Linked DNA regions of Homo sapiens: all the other regions are linked to region 1. The links come from fine-mapping of genetic effects on plasma protein levels. Region 1 holds a variant in brackets. A gene starts in each other region. All regions are shown on their forward strands. Distances are from middle to middle.

The links. PIP is the posterior inclusion probability: the model's chance that the variant is causal. The UK Biobank Pharma Proteomics Project read protein levels with antibody pairs (Olink). The fine-mapping took linkage between variants from a reference panel, not from the people measured, so its PIPs are less certain.
Region 2: it holds the start of GCHFR, and the variant in region 1 is fine-mapped to the plasma level of the GCHFR protein (UK Biobank, PIP above 0.99).
Region 3: GALNT5 starts here. The variant in region 1 is fine-mapped to the plasma level of the GALNT5 protein (UK Biobank, PIP 0.95).

What each region holds. Positions count from the first base shown.
Region 1 is chr2:60,487,709-60,492,932 of GRCh38, forward strand. The region is part of intron 2 of BCL11A (BCL11 transcription factor A); the gene reads right to left. Among named protein-coding and RNA genes, the nearest start is that of BCL11A, 63 kb to the right of the region's middle. The variant T/G (reference allele first, on the strand shown) is at 3,200.
Region 2 is chr15:40,762,009-40,767,232 of GRCh38, forward strand. GCHFR (GTP cyclohydrolase I feedback regulator) reads left to right here and starts at 2,060. Exons shown (of 3, transcript NM_005258.3): 1 at 2,060-2,208; 2 at 3,819-3,913; 3 at 5,218-5,224. The coding sequence starts at 2,173. DNAJC17 (DnaJ heat shock protein family (Hsp40) member C17) reads right to left here. Exons shown (of 11, transcript NM_018163.3): 11 at 3,153-5,224. RefSeq lists a silencer at 1,624-2,073 and enhancers at 1,740-2,605, 3,383-4,172.
Region 3 is chr2:157,254,550-157,259,773 of GRCh38, forward strand. GALNT5 (polypeptide N-acetylgalactosaminyltransferase 5) reads left to right here and starts at 3,156. Exons shown (of 10, transcript NM_014568.3): 1 at 3,156-4,987. The coding sequence starts at 3,534.

The DNA of each region.
Region 1 (5,224 bases):
TATGAGCAGCAGAATGTAAAAAGCAAGAGGCTTAATTTTAATGCGGTAATTTTCTCATCAACCATTCTATCTAAGGAAGCTGCAGAAAGGTGAAAACTGGAAATTTATGAACCTTTAATGGGAAATCTGGATAAGAATTTGGTCTAAATATATGAAGAGGAACATGGACAGCTGGCACAAACACAAAATGCAAGTACTCCAACTCCAGCTCCCTGATAACATCTGCCACTAAAGGTTTACTGACTTGGTTTTCCCAACTCTAGAATGGAGCCCTCATCTAAACCTGGGGAAGCAATATATGAACAATTAGATATTAAATGCTTATAGATCCCTCTCTGTGCTATTACTTTTGACCTGGGTTTTAAAAACACAGTAACACTTACAATTTATTCTCATTATGTAGAAACATTTAAATTATCCTGGAAGAGTTTGTCTCACGGGCTGTTCAAAGAGTGTTTCTTCCTTTCCTTCTAGGAACATGAGGAGTGAATCTGACTATTTCATCAAAGCCTGTAAAAGATACCTGAGTCATGATTTTAACTGAACAATGTCTCCAAGAATTCAGACTGTGAGAGGGGGAAGAAGACCGTCTCTTTGGTGCAGTGGGAATTGCCATTGTGTCCTCCCTGGTTCCTCTCCTCTGTCCTTGGCAATCCAGTTACAATTTGACAGCATTTAAAGATGACAGTACTTGAGATAATAGGACAATGCCATAACAGGATTACAGCAAATGTGAAAGAAAGGACACACGTAGGTACTGTCATTTAGGTAATGTCATCTATGATCAGTTTTTGTTTCATTTTTTGCTGACACAGAACTCAGTGCTACTTATACAATTCACTGGAAACCCTGTTATGGCTGTAAATAGTTTGCTTCCCCCAATGAAAGAAAATACTTACTGTACTGCAGGGGAATTCGGTAAAACTTTCTAGTTTTGCTTAACATGAAAATAATAACAAAAAATTTCAAATCAGTATCAATAGCCAAAGATCCAAAAACAGCCTAAAGCCACTGCTACCCAAAACGATTTTGTTTGTTTGTTTGTTTGTTTGTTTGTTTTTTGTTTCTGAGGTGGAGTTTCGCTCTTGTTGCCCGGGCTGGAGTGCAATGGCGCAATCTCGGCTCACCGCAATCTCCGCCTCCCGGGTTCAAGCGATTCTCCTGCCTCAGCCTCCCAAGTAGCTGGGATTATAGGCATGCGCCACCACACGCGGCTAATTTCTGTATTTTTGGTAGAGACGGGGTTTCTCCATGTTGGTCAGGCTGGTCTCAAACTCCCGACCTTAGGTGATCCACCCACCTCAGCCTCCCAAAGTGCTGGGATTATAGGCATAAGCTACCACACCCAGCCATACCCAAAACAAATTTATCTTCAAAGAAAAAAAATGCTGTGTGTCCTAAATAATAGGTGGTCAAAATGTTTCTAAAGGGTACCTTAGACCCCAATTAAACTGTTGCTTTAGAGTTTGGGGAAAATAAAGTGGAAACACCTAACTAAATTCACACTGTGAGAGCCAGTCAACACTAGCCCACATGCCAATGGGGTCCTTGTCAGTCACTTACACTATTTCTCATTCCATTTCTTTTATGTCATTTTGCCCACAACATATCCAAATTCATACAATAGAGGCATTTGGAACCCAGTGCTACTCTGCTTCCTAACTAATTTCTGCCGCTGGAAGTTTGTTCCTAAAGCCACCAAGTCTCCTAGAAGCCCTTATTTCTTGGCAGTAAACACACGGCGGCCCTGCGTGCCATTAAAATAGCTGCCTCATCATCCAGGATGACAAACAGCCACACTGTGTGCCAAGTGACCAGCCACAAACAAAAGCTTGTTTGACCAGCACCTATCTCAAAAGAAAATTCTGAGTAGAAGAGGAAGCACCTGAAGGAAGCTGAAAAGAAAGTCTGACATTTGAAATTCTAACAGAGGTTCTTTCCCCTCTAGGACACTCTGGGTCACTAGCATCTCTGCTTTCCTTGTTCCCTGGCTCATCTCCTGAGCCCCCGGGCCGTTCTCCTTTCCAACTGTCTATTTACTAACCACTTTTATCAGCCCCCCTCTCACCCCATCCAAAAATGTTTACTCAAGTTCAGGCTAGCTTAATAACCCCCAAAGCAGGAGGACACTATTAAAGAGAGATCACAGGGATATGAATTTTGATGCCTGCCTTATTTTGTCACATATCATCAAAATGATAAATGCTATCATGAAACACCATCCATGCCCTGAGTATCCCAACATGGATGGACTGGAGGAGAGGGACAAGGGACCAATACAGACCCTGATGGGCCCTTGATTCTGAACGTCATTCCTGCCCACTCCCCATCTGCAATGGGGGCAAAGGCAAAAGGAAAGCTTTCCAAGATTTAAACAGTCCTCTATATTAGTAACAGACCCATGTGCTAGGCTCCTACAATATCTGGTTCCATTCTGCTAGTGAAAGGAAACCCTACGGTCAACCAACTCCATCCTCTAGAACATATAAGTCAACAGGGGAGAACTCGGCATGAAGGGTATAACAGAGAATTTCAACAACTCATCCACCCCCTTTGCAGAGTCCTCACTTAACATCCCCTAGCATGCTGCCTTTGTCTTCTGATCAGAGTATTTCAGCAGCCCTCTGTGATCTATAGGATATGGTCCAACTCCTTAAGCCATCATTCCAGAGCTCCACAATCCAACTCCAATTTTCTATTCCAGTCTTAGTTCCCCGTACCCATCAAGGAAAATATTCTGCCCAAGTAAAAATCCCTTCCGTTCTCATTTCCTTCCTGGCTTTTCTTCTTCTTCTCTTACCTCCTGGAATCCTGCTCATACTTCAAGGCCTCAATGAAGGTCTACCTAGTCACCTTAGCAAGAAGAATCAATCTCATCCTTCTCCAACCTCATAGAACACTCATCCCATGCACCACTCCCTGACTCATATCTAGGCCTTACATTGCTGGTTAACCCTCTATGCCTCTAATTAATTTCATGTGTTCCCAATGAGTTTCTTCAATACAGGGACTCTTTCTCCTACTTGCTTCTATTATATTTGAAAGTACCAGCACAGCATGTGACATGATATTCATATATTCTAGGAATTCAACAAATAGCATATAAATGACTGATTTACCTTCCTAAAAGGGAAGTTATTTTTCCAAATATCATTTCTGTTCAAAATGGTAATTTTAACCTTCTTAGCACCCACAAACA[T/G]TTCCCTTCTGATATCTACTTGAACTTTCAGATAAAAAAAAAAAAGCAAGTTGCAGTAACATGTTATGCTACACAAAGATTAGCATGAATATCCACCCTCTTTAAACAGCCACCCCACACCCTGGAGAAGAGCAAATGTGAAGTTTATGTGCCAACCAGACTGTGCGCCAGGTTGGTAAAGTCTGACAGAGTTACCAAAAAATGACAACATCTTCTATATGTGAAGCCCAACTACGTGGTTGTGCAACTCTATAGCTGACTTTCAACCATGGTCATCTGCAAAGAAGTTAGTCTCAGCCACCTGCGCATCCTCAATGCAAAAAGCTAAGTTCTAAAAACGTATTCTTAATGCTGTTTTAAATGCAGCACTACTAAAAAGGACCTCATTTTGATGCCAGAGGGCAGCAAACATGGACACTTTTGGCCCCCTTCAGCTATTAAGTACAGTAAAAGGAAGTCCTAACTATCATTTGAAATGCTCCCGGCCAGGCGCTGTGGCTCACACCTGTAATCCCAGCACTTTGGGAGGCCGGGGCAGGAGGATCACCTGAGGTCAGGAGTTCAAGATCAGTTTGGACAACACAGTGAAACCCCGTCTCTACTAAAAATACAAAATTAGCCGGGCATGGTAATACATGCCTGTAATCTCAGCTACTCGGGAGGCTGAGGCAGGAGATCGCTTGAACCTGGGAGGCAGAAGATGCAGTGAGCCGAGATCGCGCCATTGCATTCCAGCCCGGGCAACAAGAGTAAATCTCCGTCTCACCAAAAAAAGAAAAAAGAAAAAAAAAAAAAAGAAAGAAATGCTCCCCTCAGTTCTCCAGGCTGGGCTGACTGCCCACGTCAAAACACCCTAGGCATCATCACTCCGTGTTGAGAGCCAAGTGGCCAGGTAGGACCCAACACTACGCAGGCACAGACGTTTTCCATGTTAAGAACCCAAATCCATACAGTCCTTAGCACCCAAATAGGTTCAGAAAAGGCAGTCCACACAAATCTGCCAAATAAATGAAGTTCAGATATTGCATTTACGCTAAATACCTTGGAAATTGAGAGGGAATCTGGAGAGGAAGATGGATGTAGGAAAAACAAAAACCCTCACTTTACAGGAATTCAGCACAGGAGATGCTACATTGTTAGCATCTCCGCTTAAGGAGAAGACATACTGATGAATAAGACTGAGTTGGTGACAGGCACAGTGGCTCTCGCCTGTAATCCCAGCACTTTGGGAGGTCAAGGCAGGAGGATCACTGGAGCCCAGGAGTTCAAGACCAGCCTGGGCAACAGGGAGAAACTCCATCTCTACAAAATTAGCCAGGCATGGTGGCATGCACCTGTCGTCCCAGCTACTCAGGAGGCTGAGGTGACAGGATGGCTTGAGCCTAGGAGATCAAGGCTGCAGTGAGCTATGAACATGCCACTACACTCTAGCCTAGGCAACACAGCGAGACCCTGTCTCAAAAACAAACAAACAAACAAACAAAAGACAACTAATTGGGCTAATGTTTAGAATAAATGTATTTCTAGGGAAGAAAAAAACTTAGTTGGGTACTCCCTCCCCTTTTTACTTTTTGAAGCCTGCTGGAATTCTAGGAAAACAGATTTCCTCCCCTTGCTCTCTCCTTCCTCACATACTCACCAGTACTCATGCGCTTCTCAGACCCAAATGCTCTGCTTATGGTGGATAACCCCATCTCAGTGGGCCTCCCTCTCTCTCTCTCTCTCTCTCTCTCTCTGTCATTACCAACTTCTATAAAATCTCAGAATACAAAGGGCATTCTCATTTCCCTGAAATGTACTTTGGTGCTACCCTGAAAGACGGCTAGAGTCTTGAGGAGACCCAAACAGTTAAAGGTTACAGACAGACTTGGTTCCACTCCAGTGGTGGGTGTTTTGTTTTGTTTCGCTTTAGCTTTATTAAGGTATACTTTACATACAACAAAAGTCATTCATTTTAAGTGTACAGTTGGATTCAATTTGCCAGTTGTATACAGCTGTGTGGCCTCCACCAAAATCAAGATACAG
Region 2 (5,224 bases), not on the chromosome of region 1:
AAAATGAAAAAAAGTAAAATTGACTTTAATTTGTATTTCCTGTATTTCTAATGATATACTAGGCATCATGTTATATGTTTATTGGTCATTTCTATTTCCTCTTTTGTGAAGGGCCTATTCAAGTCAGTTACCCCTGTTTTTTCCATTGTTCATCTTTTTCTCACTGAGTTGTAGGAGCTCCTGGGCATCAATCTTTTGTTAGTTTTTTTTTTTTTTTTTTTTTTTGAGACGAAGTATTGCTCTGCCCCAGGCTGGAGTGCAGTGGCCCAACCAATCTCGGCTCACTGCAAGCTCCGCCTCCCAGGTTCACGCCATTCTCCTGCCTCAGCCTCCCGAGTAGCTGGAACTACAGGCGGCCCCCACCACGCCCGGCTAATTTTTTGTACTTTTAGTAGAGACGGGGTTTCACTGTGTTAAGCCAGGATGGTCTCGATTTCCTGACCTCGTGATCCGCCCGCCTCGGCCTCCCAAAGTTCTGGGATTAGCAGCGTGAGCCACCGCGCCCGGCCCTTTCGTCAGTTTTAACACATCCTTTGTTAAGCATGAATGTGTTTTATCTCTCTGGCTAACTTGTTAGGTCAGTGGGTAAGAGGGCAGGGGTAGGAACTACAGAATAATAAATTAGACCAGTTAAGGAACGTTTAGGATTACAACTTCCTGCTTCCCTTATAGCTCTCTCCACGTCTGTCAAAGTGTTGGAACGGCAGCATCCCCTATAAAGGCCCCTCTTAAAAAGTGAAGATTATTACCCTCCCATGGGAGGGAAGGCTACCTACAGGCTGTTTTTGTTTTGCTTTATTTTCTAGAAAACCAATCACAGGCCGGATGCGGTGGCTCACGCCTGTAATCCCAGCTCTTTGGGAGGCCAAGGCGGGTGGATCACCTGAGGTCGGGAGTTCGCCACCAGCCTGACCAAAATGGAGAAACGCCGTCTCTACTAAAAATACAAAATTAGCCGGGCGTCGTGGCGCAGGCCTGTAATCCCAGCTACTCAGGAGGCTGAGGCAGGATAATCGCTTGAACCTGGGAGGCGGAGATTGCGGTGAGCGGAGATCGCGCCATTGCGCTCCGGCCTGGACAATAAGAGCGAAACTCCATGTCCAAAAAAAAAAAAAAAAAAGAAAAGAAAAAAGAAAACCAATCACAACAAGGCAGATAAAGAAGGATGAGTTGTCAGATTTTGATAACTGCGGATGAGGGGCGTGGACACACGGTTGGGAACTCGCAGCCGCTCATTGGTGGCTGGTGCGGGGGAAGTTGTTTCATTTGCCCCAGGTGTTGCCCAGTGACCTCCTGCGCGTGCGCCGCGTCTGTCCAGCTGCGCGGGAAGCTCAGGGGAGGGAAGGCCAGGTTCCATCCATTCAGTCACTCCAGACCTGGCACCCAGCCAAGCGCGCGGTTCCTTTACAGACTTTCCTGCGGGTCCACAGAAATGCAAGGATCCGCCTCTGTGCTGGAATTAGAGTCTGGGAGGGGGAATGCACAGTGCGCCCTGGGTGGTATTTTAGTTGTCGCCTTCAGGGCTAGCTCCGAGCCTCGTGCCCCGGCCTCCTCAGCGCTTAAGGAATCTCTGGAGCGCATGTCTTGGCGAGGGGAAGTGGGGCCCCGTTGAAGCTGTCGAGGCGTCTCTGAGAGGGGTGGGCTGGGGCCTGGAGAGGCCTCCGTGAGGACGCCGTTTGCTCTGGGCTCTGCCTGGCAGGGGACTTTGGAACCTGGCCTGAAGTGTTCAAGAAGCGGGCGCGGGGGCAACACGCGCGCGGGGACGCAGTAAGATCACAGGCTGCAAAGAAAACAGCACTAAGCGTCCTGGAGGACGCTGGAGCTTCAGGATAGTGTCCTTCCAGGTCGTGGGACCGCCCCCTCCTCCCCGCACTCCACCTTCCCGCAACTGGATCACTCGGCGGAAGCCTCAGGTGGGCCCCGGGGTCCAAGTCCGCCGCCGGGAGGGCGGGGGCGGGCCCCGAACCGCCGACTGCAGGGCGCGTCACGGCAGCCGCTCCTGATTGGCGGCCACGGCGGTCACGGGCAAGGTGCCCCGGGATTGACGCCGCCTGTGGCCAGAGCCGGAGTAACGGGACTCCCAGCTGCGCGTCGCAGTCCCGACGCGAGAAGGGCTGGAGTCGGCGTCCAGCCTAGAGCCCCCGGTGGGAGCCAGGCCGGGACGCGTGCACCATGCCCTACCTGCTCATCAGCACCCAGATCCGCATGGTGAGTACCGGCCGCCTGGCGACTTGGAGCCGGGACCAGGCCCTAGGGGGCTGCGACTGCACCTTCATGCCTCCCTCCTGGGCTGCACCCACCGGGGACTGGACCGGGAACCCGCCCAGACACGCCCCCTTGGCCGGGGAGAGGGAGTGGAGAAGCGGGCTCAGCTCGGCTTCCGGGACTCAGCGAGCTCTGGCCGGCCTGAAGCCTTTATTGCCGCGAAGGGGCCCGGGTACGTGCGTCCCGGCAACAGGGCGACCTCCGGGCGCTTCCGGCTCCTGTCCTACCTGTCGGCGGGAGAGACCCAGGGAGCCCTGGCCTCACGCGCAGCACCTAGTGCCCTGCACAGAGCCGCTCCGCAGGGGAAAAAAGGGCGAATAACCTGAGAGAAAGAGGTTTGGAAAAGATAAGGACCTGCCAAGGCGCTAAAACCCCGGTGCCAAGTCCTTGACCCATAAACAGCAACTAGCTGCACCCTTAGGCACTTCCAGGAAGGGCTATCCCTGAAGCTTTAGGGAAGGAAGAAAAGAAAGAACACCCTGCTTGGAAAAAAGGAAGGCGAGAAGGGGCTGTGCAGTTAGAGGTGGGAACACCATGAGTTAGAAGTCACGTTCCTTTCTCTGGGCGCAGTTTCCTTATCTGTAAAAAGGTTCTGATTGCCCCTCAGGAGTCCCCTTTTAGCTTCAGAAAGACATGACGGGCAGCAAGGTGCTCTCTGCCCTTGCTCACTGCCCAGTGCTGGGGTGAACCAGCAAAGGGTACACAACCCCCTTGGTGGGTTCACCACGCAACAGAGAGCTCTTGCAGAGCCCTGGGCAGCGGTTTGTGAAGCAGCCATCTGCTCAGCTGCCAAAATGTGGATTCCTGGGTCCCTTCCCAGACCTCCTAAAACTCTGTCTGGGGCTTGGGAACCCATACTTGGAAATGGCCCCCCAAAGTGATTCTTATTTCTTAAAAGATATGGCTTTATTGATATGTAATGTGCATACCATAAATTCTTTGATTTAAAGTGTACAATTCAGTGTTGTTGTTTCTTTAGTGTACTCAGAGTTGTGCAACCATCACCATAATCAGTTTTAGAACATTTCTAATACCCCAAAAGGAAACCCTGTACCCACTGGCAGACACTCTTGATTTCCCCCAAGTCCCTCAGCCCTAGATAACCACTAATTACCTTTCTGTGGTAATGTGATCTGAGTCTGGCTTCTTTCATTTACATGTTTATTTTGTTTTGTTTTTTTGAAATGGAGTCTCACTCTGTCACCCAGGCTGGAGTGCAGTGGTGCAATCATGGCTCACTGCAGCCTCAAACTCCTCCCACCTCAAGCGATCCTCCCACCTCAGCCTCAGTAGCTGGAACTATAGGCTCGTGATACTTTGCCTGGCTAAAGCTGAGCTTTAAGGCACTAGGGAGGGCGCCTACATTGCTCCTCCTGATCATTGATGGGCTCCACCCCTTCACAGCTTGTGCTCAGCCCCTAAGAATCCTTGCTACTCTCTGTAGCCTTTACCTGAACCTTACTCAGGGCTAGCAGGCAGGGGAGGAAGGACAGGCAAGACCTTCCACCTCCTCCTGGCAGCCAGCCAAGCAGCCACTGTGGCTTACCTTGCAGGAGGTGGGCCCCACTATGGTGGGCGATGAACAGTCGGATCCAGAGCTGATGCAGCATCTGGGGGCTTCAAAGAGAAGAGCCTTGGGAAACAACTTGTAAGTAGCAGCCTCCCTCAGTATCCTCTCCCTGCCAGCCCCTAGACCTGCCTCTGCTCCCTTTATACAACCTCCAAGCCCAGGGACAGGGCCCAGCATCAGAGCCCCCTGCCTGCATCCTGGGGCTCTGTTCTCCGGAGGAGTTGGTCCCATCTGTAGCCTCTCCAACATCCCCCCTCTCCCCCACGAGGCTTGCTCTGAAAGCTTTCCACATCCTTACTGGAACCGCAGAAACAGAGTCCGTTCCCTGGGTCTAGGACTCCACTAGCAGACTGTTCCTTGCCCTGCCCTCTCCTAAGCTGGACCCCATCAAGGACAGACAGGCACAGAGAGAAAGGTTTTTGTCGTGAGGATCTGCATGAGTCGCAAAGCTAAGCCCTAGAAGCAGGGAGCAGGGAGCCTGCGTCCTACCTCCAGGGTGGCTGCTGCCTGGGGACCTAGCCATTTCCCTTGGCATTCTTCCTAATGCCTCCATGTCTAAACTGTGACTACTGCTTCCATTCCTCCTCTCACCCCTGGAGGCAGGGAGAACCCAAGCTACACAGGCTCTCTGAAAAGAGTTGTCAGAGTGAGTGCCAGTTCAAATCGGGGAAAGAGGAGGGCTGATCCCAGCCCCTGGGTCAAGGCTCGGGGACAGAAGCCAGCCCCCTCCCTTTGCCATGAGGCACTTGCCTCTCCATGCCCAGCTTGGGGCTTGAGCCCTTTGTCTGCTTCATGGTCTTTCAGCATCAATTAAACCTGACAGAAGGACTACCAGCACTCTCCATGCTAGGGAGTGGCGCACAGAGCCAGGAGCTACTGGGGCTCAGCCTTGTTGCTACAGAACTGCAGGACAGCCAGGGCAGTGAGGGGCCTGGAGGCTTATTTTTTTTTGAAATGGAGTCTCTGTCGCCCAGGCTGGAGTGCGGTGGTGCAATCATGGCTCACTGCAGCCTCAGCCTCCTCCTACCTGGAAGCCTGGGTGGGGAGCAAGCCCAGGGAGGGCGGCAGCAGGGCTGTGGTCAGACTAACATGGTCTACCATCTGGGACGCTGGGGAACCTGATTAACCCCTCTGTTTTCTCATCTATCAATGGCCACAACAGTGGCACCTTCACTAGCTTGTTGGGAAGAATAAATGAGATAGCTCGTGAAGTACCTAGAAGGGGAGGAGGCAGGGGGCGTGCACTTACCCCAGCGCCCAGCAAGCAGCCAGCAAGTGTGAGTCACTACAAGAGTGGCCAGGCTGCCTGCTGCAGACACTAGCTTTGTACCAGGAGCTTGCTGTGTGCCCCTCCTCACCCCCCCCATCCTGTCTCTTTGCAGTTATGAA
Region 3 (5,224 bases), 97 Mb after region 1:
AGAGGGATAAAAAGAAATCAGTACTCTTTGATAAAATTTATATGGAAACAAGAATATATTTCAAGCAGTGTTTTAAACTGCCAAGCATAGAATATAACAAGTGTTGACTTTCCTAAAAGACATTTGAGTAATTCCAACTGCCATTTGGGGTGGGATGGTGGCTGGACAAGATTGAATCATGCAGAGTAAAATAATTTTAAAGTATTCTATTTTCATGTTTAAAACAATATTGTAATGCAAACCATTTATCCATGATGCTAAAAAAAATTCTCACTTTATTTTCGAATGTGGATGCTAAAGATGTGTGCTATGTTTTTTGCTGGTGGCGTTCTTTTTTTATTATTATTATTATTATACTGGTGGCGTTCTACTGAGGGGAGTTTTAAGGTTGTTAGGGGCAGAGACAATGTCACCTACTTCATGTTTTGGGCATGTAGGGAGTTCTCAGTGAACAATGGTCTTGTTAAATCTATAATTAGAGGAAATAAGAATGGCAAGAATAAAATAAAATACTCAGATTTGTTTCTTCCCCATTGCCAGAATCATGTTAGTCACTAGTTTTCTACTTGTTTTTTTGGGAAGAGCTGGTACATTGCCTCCCACATGCATCCGACACTCCTATTACAGCAAAGTATTAGCAACAATATGAATGGCTAACATTTAAAGAGTACCTTCAATATAACAATAACTTTAACCATTTTTAAATATTCTCACATTAATCTGCAAAGCAGAATTTTTTTTTATTGCTCAGTAACCACATAAAATTAACTAGCCTGCAAGATCATACAGCTAGAGAGCAGTATTGTGTGATATTGAAGCACACGGACTACAGTCGTGTATTCAAGACCCAACCCCTCCAATCTCTACCAGAAGTTGCTTTACCTCTCTAAGGTTTCATTTGCTGACTACAAAATACATATTGTAATTTACTCCTTCACATTAGATTCTTGTGAGGATTGAGTGAGATAGTCAATGGAAAGAACTTAGCAAAGTGCTTGAGATATATATATGAATTTGGAATCTCTCCTTCCCCTCCCAAGTCATTGGGAACATAAGTTTACCTCAAAGCATGGAAGCTAGACCCTCCCCACACTAGAGTAATGAACAGCAGTGTTGTCCACAAATCACTCAGAGTTCCTCAGAGAGAAGGACAGTGGTCCCGAGAAGTGCTTCTCAAACTCTATGGACAATCTTTACAACTGGCAATGTCAAAATGTGTATTCTGATTTAGTTGTTATGGGAATGCATAGATTTTATTAGACTGTACTTTAGACAGGGAAGGAATGTCACACAAGTTGTAGACTGTATTGGCCAGGATTTTTCAGAGAAACAGAACCAATAGGATTCATAGAGGTAGATAAGTGAGTTGCAGTTTATTACAGGAATTGGCTCATGTGGTTATGGAGACTGAGAAACCTCAGTCCAGGCCACCTGCAAGCTGGAGAACCAGGAAAGCCAGTAACATGGCACATTCTGAGTCCAAAGGCCTGAGAACCAGGGAAGCCAATAACATCACTCTCAGTCTGAGGTCAAAAGCCTGAGAACCTAGTGAGGGATGTGGAGGTTGTGGGGGCAGACTGGTACAAGCCCCAGAGGCCAAAGCCAGAGAATCTAAAGTTCTAGTCCAAAGGCAGAAGAAGAAAGATGTCCCAGCTCACTAACAGAGACAGAATCCACCTTTCCTCTGCCTTTTTTTCTATCTGGGCCCTCAACCAATTAGTGGTGCCTGCCCACATTGGGTGAGGGCATCTCCTCCCCACTCAGTGCACTGAGTCAAATGCCAATCTCTTCTGGAAACACCCTCACAGATATACCTAAAAATAATGCTTTACTGGTTCTCTGGGTGTTCCTTAGCCCAGTCAAGTAGACACCTAAAATTAAATGTCTCATAGGCAATGTTCAAAAACCAAAAACAAACAAACAAAAAATTGAGACTTTTTTTCTAGACCAGTGTTTCTCAACTTTAGCTGCACATTTGAAAGACCTGGGAAGCTTTGTAAAAAAAAAAAAAAAAAAAAAAATATATATATATATATATATATATATATATATATATATATATATTTAATACAATATCAGCCCAAATGTCATCTCCACCTCCTCTCTCATCAATTGACCAGAGTTTTGGGGATCTTGTTTCAAGTGGTTCTAATGAAAAGCCTGTGGCGGAACTGCTACCCTACCAGTCAACCAGCATCACTCAAAATCTGGTCCAAGTCCTGGTGTGGTCCTGAAACTGTTGCTTGCTGGTTTAAGACGAGATAAGTACTGAAACTGAGAGTAAGTGTATCTTAATCTGTTCAGGCTACTATAGAAGAATAACATAGACTAAGTGACTCATAAACAACAGAAACTTATTTCTCACAGTTCTAGAGACTGAGAAGTCAGAAATCAAGGCACCAGCAGATTCGTTGACTGGTGAAGGCCCATTTCCTGGTTCATAGATGGCACCTTCTCATTATGTCTTCACTTTGTGGAATGGCAAGGCAATAGGGCCTCTTTTTTAAGGGTGCTGATCCCATTCATGAGGGCTCTATCCTTATAATGAAATCACCTTCAAAAGCCCTACCTCCTAATACTATCACATTTATGATTAGGTTTCAACATATGAATTTTGGGTGGACATAAACATTCAGACCATAACAAAGTGTTTAGAAACTTTTATAGCAGTATGACAAATTAAGTTTATTTGTAATCAAATGTAATAATAAAAACAGATGGATTAGTGAAAAAAAAATAGTTGGCTTACAAAGAAATACATTGAAACCCCTTGAATGAATGATCTAAATAATTAAACATATACATCTCTGGAAGTGAGGATATACCAGGCCCCTTCTTTAAGCTGTTATGTCTTAAAGCTGAAATGTTAACTTCAGTGATAAATTCCTCAGGCAGAGCATTGGCACCTGGCTACAACAGGGTTAATGAGCAGGAGTAGGGTAGGTGGGGTCACAAACCAGGAACACATGCCCTCCAAGTTAGATAGCTTTTTTTCCTCTTTAATTGCCGTTTAAACACACATGCTCTCACATAACACAGAAGGTGAGAGCTGAATGAAGTTTTCTGGGTAATGGCATGAAATGTTTTCCTTATGAGAAGTGGTGTTGAGTTACAGCGTGCAGACGGAGAACGGGGAGGAGAGAAACGGCAGTCTCAATCTGGCCCCCACCTTTTCTTGGGCTTGTAGGAAGGTGGACATGGGCTCCCGGAGACAAGACAAGTGATATGTTGAACTGTTCGGTGGCTGGAATCAACTGCTCCTGGAGTGACCTAAGGCCAGTGTTTATCAGAACTTAGCCAGGGCCAGCCAAGCAGGCACAGATGCTCTGCTATGAAATGCCACGCAGGCAGAGACTGACAAGCGGTAGGAACTGAGCTTTCCCCTTGGACTGCTGCTTCCTGCTGTGTTCAGGGGAGGGGGTCACTTTCTGGCAACTCTGCTGCTGCTGCTGCTGCTGCTGCTACTTCAGCTTCCTCTCCACTCAAGGTAAGCAGGCTAAGGGAGGGCAGGCTGCTAGGGAAAGCTTTGTACCATGAACAGGATCCGAAAGTTTTTCCGAGGAAGTGGGCGAGTCTTGGCATTTATCTTTGTAGCTTCTGTCATCTGGCTCCTCTTTGACATGGCAGCTCTCCGCCTCTCATTCAGTGAGATCAACACTCGGGTCATCAAGGAAGACATTGTGAGGAGGGAGCGGATAGGATTCAGAGTTCAGCCAGACCAAGGAAAAATTTTTTACAGCAGCATAAAAGAGATGAAACCTCCCCTAAGGGGACATGGGAAAGGGGCATGGGGCAAAGAGAATGTTAGAAAAACTGAGGAGAGTGTGCTCAAGGTTGAGGTGGACTTGGACCAAACCCAGAGGGAAAGAAAAATGCAGAATGCCCTGGGAAGGGGCAAGGTTGTGCCGTTGTGGCATCCTGCACATCTGCAGACCCTCCCTGTGACTCCTAACAAGCAGAAGACAGACGGGAGAGGCACCAAACCTGAAGCCTCCTCTCACCAGGGGACACCAAAGCAAACGACAGCTCAGGGGGCTCCAAAGACCTCATTCATAGCAGCAAAAGGAACTCAGGTAGTCAAAATATCAGTACACATGGGACGTGTCAGTTTAAAACAGGAGCCCCGGAAGAGTCATAGTCCCAGCAGTGACACATCAAAACTAGCAGCTGAAAGGGACTTGAATGTGACCATCAGTCTTAGTACTGATAGACCAAAGCAGCGATCACAGGCAGTAGCAAACGAGAGGGCACACCCTGCCAGCACAGCAGTGCCGAAGTCTGGGGAAGCCATGGCCTTAAACAAAACTAAGACTCAGAGCAAAGAAGTCAATGCAAATAAACACAAAGCCAATACGAGTCTTCCTTTTCCTAAGTTCACTGTCAATTCAAATCGCTTAAGGAAGCAATCTATTAATGAGACACCTTTGGGAAGTTTGTCAAAGGATGATGGAGCTAGAGGGGCTCATGGGAAGAAACTCAATTTCTCTGAAAGCCATCTTGTGATTATAACCAAAGAGGAAGAGCAAAAGGCAGACCCCAAAGAGGTCTCTAATTCTAAAACCAAAACAATATTTCCTAAAGTATTGGGTAAAAGCCAAAGTAAACACATTTCCAGGAATAGAAGTGAGATGTCTTCCTCTTCACTTGCTCCACATAGAGTGCCACTGTCCCAAACTAACCATGCTTTAACTGGAGGGCTAGAGCCAGCAAAAATCAACATAACTGCCAAAGCCCCCTCTACAGAATACAACCAGAGTCATATAAAAGCCCTTTTACCTGAAGACAGTGGAACGCACCAGGTGTTAAGAATTGATGTGACACTTTCTCCAAGGGACCCCAAAGCTCCAGGGCAGTTTGGGCGTCCTGTAGTTGTCCCCCATGGAAAGGAGAAGGAGGCAGAAAGAAGATGGAAAGAAGGAAACTTCAATGTCTACCTTAGCGATTTGATCCCAGTGGATAGAGCCATTGAAGACACCAGACCTGCTGGGTAAGACCTATTTCTCTTCTCTTTCCTCAACCCCAAGTGCTTTGGCTGTTATGTAAAGAGGATTTATTGCTAGATAATTCTGTGTGATTTTTGGTCACCTAGAGAATTAAAGAAACATTAATCATTGGATATCATTCAAATATTTCACCAGCTACAGAGACAAAAATTCTCTTATTAGCAGTTGCAGAGTTCTTGTTCTCTGAGACTTTGGTCCCTACCATTAGCTCATGTTCAATT